2 separate regions of the Homo sapiens genome follow, and region 2 is linked to region 1. Evidence: fine-mapped expression QTL. A gene starts in region 1. The other region holds a variant in brackets. All regions are shown on one strand. Distances are from middle to middle. Region 1 holds the start of H2BW2 (H2B.W histone 2). Region 2 has its middle 19 kb from the start of IL1RAPL2.

Evidence for each region. PIP is the estimated chance that this variant, and not a neighbour inherited with it, causes the effect.
Region 2: its variant is the best candidate, but not a certain one, in a credible set for the expression of H2BW2 in nucleus accumbens (GTEx, PIP 0.69).

The regions. Positions count from the first base shown.
Region 1 is chrX:104,038,758-104,041,677 of GRCh38, reverse strand. It overlaps H2BW2 (H2B.W histone 2), which reads right to left and starts at 1,722. Exons shown (of 4, transcript NM_001388464.1): 1 at 1,274-1,722; 2 at 792-850; 3 at 572-590. The coding sequence starts at 1,683. The coding sequence ends at 814.
Region 2 is chrX:104,545,712-104,548,631 of GRCh38, reverse strand. No RefSeq gene overlaps it. Among named protein-coding and RNA genes, the nearest start is that of IL1RAPL2, 19 kb to the left of the region's middle. The variant C/G (reference allele first, on the strand shown) is at 1,322.

The DNA of each region.
Region 1 (2,920 bases):
TCCTGTGGGTTGCAGTCCCAGAGTATGTTCTCTTGTCCACATACTCGGGCGACTGGAAATCAATGGAAAAGGAAAGCAATGGGAAAGTGAGCACCTGCTCTGAAATTCAGCAATACACTTATAGAAAAAAATGCTTAAAATGCCAAGACTTGGGACCCAGAAGAGAGCACAATGAAAGGTAGCCTATATTAATATTAACATGAATATAAATATGCTAATCTTTTGAGGAAATAAGCCTTATCTGACTTCTACTAATGGTTGCCAATGTTCTGTATAACTTGATGTTAGGGACAAGGTACATATTCTAATCTTAGCTTTGGATTCATATCCCTAAAAGATCATGATTACAAGCAATGCAAACAAAAACATCAGGTAAAGAATCACACTGCCGTTCCTTTAAACACCAGGTTGAATATAACAGGAAGGCTGCTGTGGGTTCAGCTTGGGTCACTCCCCCCACATTGGGTCAATGACTGTTGCTCATAGACTGCAGGTCACTCATTGGCTGTACCACTGTACACTAGGGCATGAGCTGTTTCCGTGGACACTCCGTAATCCTACTGACACACACCTGGAAGTAAGGAAGGTTTCTGTTCAAAAAGAAATGAAAAAATTACTGTCAGTACAAAAAGAGAATGAATTACAATAGTGGTCTCAGAGTCGGGGAAGCTGGAAAACGAATGGATTCTTGAAAATTTTATTTAGCCATATATATACTGTAACTGGGCCTCGTTTGCTTATTTACATGGATTCATGATGAGAGAGATGCTGAACACATTTAGGAGGGTTACCTTGCTTCTTGTATCAGCATATTCACTTTCTCTGTTGCCATATCGCACATAATGAAGTTCTGGAAAATCCCACCATCCAGTCGTAGGAGAATGAGAGTGAAAAAGGTAAACATCAGTACATTGATAACATCATCATAAAGATAACCTAGAAAGATAACTAAGAAAAACGGCCATTTGGGAAACTGAGGACACGAAACACGATTACGGAAACACCCCCTACTTTTCCTTGGAGCATATTGCACTACAGATATATTGGAGTTGACAGTGTTTTGCACTGTGGGAAAAATGCTTGAAAAACCGCAGGAGGCCACACGGCACATGCCCCCCAAGCTGGAACGGTGCCACCCACACCAACCTCCGGTGGGGTCCCCCCCTTGGCGGGCCACTGGCCTATAGGGCCACGGGCGGTGGTTCTGAATAGAGCCTTTGGGTTTCCCAGGTGCTCAGGCGCTCCTGAGACAGCTCACTTGCTTTTGGTGTACCTGAGGGCGGCATTCGTGCCCTGGGCCTCGGCGAGCTTGCCCATCTTCCCCGGCAGCAGCAGTCGCACGGCCATCTGGATGTCCCGGGAGGTGATGGTCACGCGCTTGGTGTAATGGGCCAGCTGACCAGCCTCGGTGGCGATGCGGTCCAATATGTCATGGATCATAGAATCCATGACACTCACGGCCTCCTGGGAAAGGCTGAGGCCCTGGTGAACCTGCTTCAGCACCCGGGGGAAATAGGGGGTGAAGCTGTCCCCGAAGCTGTCCCCACGGCGGTTGGCGTGGCGCCTGCGGGAGCCTCGGCACCCTCGCCTCTTCTGCTTCTGGGCCTTCGTGGAGTTGGCCTCTTTGGGCTCCTGGATGCTCTGGCCTTCCTCCGAGGTTGTCTCAGAGGAAGCCTCAGCCATGGCGGAAGCAGCGGCCATTAGATAGCAAGAACAGAGAGTGACGGTTGGGGACCAGGGAAGTGGGGGGCACTTTGGTATGGTCGCATGGCTCTACGTCACATTCCAACTCGACATCTGATTGGATGAAGTGTCACCAAGGGCGCCTCTCAGCAATCTTCCCTCCATTGAAGGTGATCGGATGATCCTGTTGCTTGGAATCATGTCAGCCAATCACAGAGGGCGTCTGCCCGCCTAAGTGGCCGGGTTGCCTACCTCAGACAAAGGTACACAGAGTCTTGCTCTGTGGCACACCTGCAGTGCAGTGGTGCGGTCTCAGCTCACTGCAACCCCTGCCTCCTGGTTTCAAGTGATGCTCCCTCTTCAGCCTCCCAAGTAGCTGGGAGTAGAGGCGCGTACCACCACACCTGGCTAAGTTTTGTATTTTGTGTGTGTGTATGTGTGTGTGTGTGAGAAACATGGTTTCTTTATGTTTCCTCAGGCTGGTCCCAACTCCTGGACTCCAGTGATTCTCCTGCCTTGGCCTCCCAAGCTGCTGGGATTACAGGCATGAGCTATTGTGCCTGGCAGAGAAAACTTATTTCAAGAAAATAAAACATGATGTTGATACCCATTGAAGGATGCACACTACAAAAATCTGAGAACATTTATAAACTTGGTTACAAAACTCATACCTGAAATATTATAAATTAAATCACATTACACACACACACACACACACACACACACACACAAAGGGAAACAGTTTACTGCTGTAAATAACAATTTAGAAGCATCAAACGGGGCAAACATTACTAATGGAACAAGCAGACCTCATATAATCTTTTTTCAACATTACCTCTATTATACAATTCATTTAAATACATAACAAAAACCCACAGTGCAGAAATAGCTAAATCAAAAATTCAATGAACAGCACCCCTTTCAAGCTTCCGAGAAAATAAAGTAAGGACTCTAACTCATTCACATTTGTCTAATTCTATTGTTTCCCAGTCTACAATCTTTTTTAATGCAAAGCTTAATGTCCTGTGAGTATGCATCACTTACGATGGAAGTATCCAATGAGAGCACCCAAACCCCACTCTCCACTGGCTCAACTAATGAAGTGTCTTCAGCCCTGGGCCTGAGCCACTGGCTCAGAATGTGAGCAGGTGACCAGTCCTGAACCAATAAATGCCCTCCTAGCTGTTCAGCCTTGTAAATTGAGGAGAAAATTAGTTTGAGGTTTTTGTCCACTTTT
Region 2 (2,920 bases), 510 kb before region 1:
ACTAGAAAATCTAGAAGAAATGGATAAATTCCTCGACACATACACCCTCCCAAGACTAAACCAGGAAGAAGCTGACTCTCTGAATAGACAAATAACAGGCTCTGAAATTGTGGCAATAATCAATAGCTTACCAACCAAAAAGAGTCCTGGACCAGATGCATTCACAGCGAATTCTACCAGAGGTACAAGGAGGAACTGGTACCATTCCTTCTGAAACTATTCCAATCAACAGAAAAAGAGGGAATCCTCCCTAACTCATTTTATGAGGCCAGCATCATCCTGATACCAAAGCCAGGCAGAGACACAGGCAAAAAAGAGAATTTTAGACCAATATCCTTGATGAACATTGATGCAAAAATCCTCAATAAAATACTGGCAAACTGAATCCAGGAGCACATCAAAAAGCTTATCCACCATGATCAAGTGGGCTTCATCCCTGGGATGCAAGGCTGGTTCAACATACGCAAATCAATAAATGTAATCCAGCATATAAACAGAACCAGAGACAAAAACCACATGATTATCTCAATAGATGCAGAAAAGGCCTTTGACAAAATTCAACAACCCTTCATGCTAAAAACTCTCAAGAAATTAGGTAATGATGGGACGTATCTCAAAATAATAAGAGCTATCTATGACAAACCCACAGCCAATATCATACCGAATGGGCAAAAACTGGAAGCATTCCCTTTGAAAACTGGCACAAGACAGGGATGCCCTCTCTCACCACTCCTCTTCAACATAGTGTTGGAAGTTCTGGCCAGGGTAATCAGGCAGGAGAAGGAAATAAAGGGTATTCAATTAGGAAAAGAGGAAGTCAAATTGTCCCTGTTTGCAGATGACATGATTGTATCCTACAAAACCCCATTGTCTCAGCCCAAAATCTCCTTAAGCTGATAAGCAACTTCAGCAAAGTCTCAGGATACAAAATCAAGGTACCCAGCTTTTGAGAACTCAGGCCTCCCTCTGGCTGCCCAAAGGTTCCCACTTATTCATCTCACTTAGGCTCTCTCTTTCCTACCAGCAAACCACACTTCAAACCTTCCCCTCCTCTCTTCTAACCCTTCAAACTTGATGTTCCTTTTGCTCCAGCCACTTGGATCTTTGCTCTCTGTTTGCAATGGGTTGTCATGTGTATAGCAGTACTGCCTTTGAATGTTAACAGAGGTCCTTGCTTTATCCCCAAGAAGAGCTCATGAATGTACAGCTCTGTGGCAGGCGGGGAAATCATTTTGGAGAGTTTTGCCCCTTTAATCACATCCCCCACAGTGTTAGATTACCTAAAGGTACACGAGCACCACTTAAGGCACCAACAAATCAG[C/G]TATCCTCCACCTGATCTCTTACCAAGAGGAACACTTCTGAAAGATATTGGTGTTTGATAAATAAAGGAAAAAATCATTGATTTCATTATATGGGAGAAAATTAGAGAACTTTAAAACTTTCATTTACTTGTTTTAAGGTTTGATGTTTTTATGGTAGGGGGAGAGGAGGAATAACCTTAGTGCTTAGCACCTCTAAAGGTCTCATTGCTACCCCAAGACTGGGCAAAAGATGGTGAACTGTTAAAGCCGTTGCCACAGCCCTTGCCCCTTTGTAAGTTTAAGCACAGAGCTAGGATGCAGGAGACAAATGTAAGCTATAATGTGTGGGACCCAGTGCAGGCAAAAGAACAATATCTCTAGCCTTTTCAAAAAATTGACAAATAATAATTATATATATTTATGAGGTACAATGTGATGTTTTAATATATGTATACATCGTAGGATGACTAAAGGAAGCAAATTAACATATCTATTACCTCACATCTTATAATAGTTGCAAGTCCTTTAACTCCCCTATGATGGACTGGAATGCCTCTACTTTGGTTCTGGGCTACACACCAAAGCCTTAATGCCAAGCCTAAGTGATAAGTCCAACTGTGAAGGAGAAGATTCCTTTGGTGACACTAACTCTGACTCTTCCCCACAGGTGTCTGTTCCCACCAAAGCCTGCTATCCCTAAGTGCTACCCTGAAACTCATCAGCCAAACAAGTTGAAACTTCTCCTTTCTGTTTTTGAGTCCCTCCTTACCCCTTTCGCTCCTCAAAACCCATTAAAATAAGAACTAATTTGGTAAGTTAATTTCTAATAACGATTTCTTTTAGTAGTAAGTTAATTACTAAATAATAATTAGTCCTGGCAGGGAGGTTATTTACAGAAATTATACAACCCTGGAATTCAGATAAATTTGGATTCAAATCCTAGCATCACCAATACAAATTAAGCTATTTGACCTTGAGCAAAGTCACTAGCTGTACTGTGCCTCAGTTTCTCATCTATAAAGTGGGCATAACAATCATATCTATTCCATTTGAGAATGTTTTGAGAATTGTTTTGAGAATTAAATAATAGAACACATGAAAAGCACATAACATAGTGTTTAGTGGATACTCAATAAGTGTTAGTCTGTTTTCCCCTTAATGAGAAAACACGTGCATATTTTTACAGTGAAATTATAACCCAGTACTTTGGCTTTTAATTCAAACAAGGAAATTTTTATGGATCCTCTACTATGTGGCAGGTAATTTTCCAGATTCTGGAGATTAGCAGTGAGCAAAATAGACAAATTTCTACACTCTCATGGGGCTTGTATTCTAGTGGGGAGAGATAGACCATCAACAATAAACAGATATGCATATGTCAGATGTTGATAAGTGATATGAATAGAAATAAAGCAGTGACAAGGGGATAGGTTGAGTCGTGTAAGCATGGAGAGTTGTAATTTTTTTAAGACCTTATTTTTACGGCAGGTTTAGGTTCACAACAAAATTGAGAGGACAGTAGAAAAATAATCCATGTACCTCCTGCTCGCCCACATGCATAGCCTCCATTATCAAGATGCCCCATAAGAAAGATGTATTTGTTCCAATTGATGACCTTA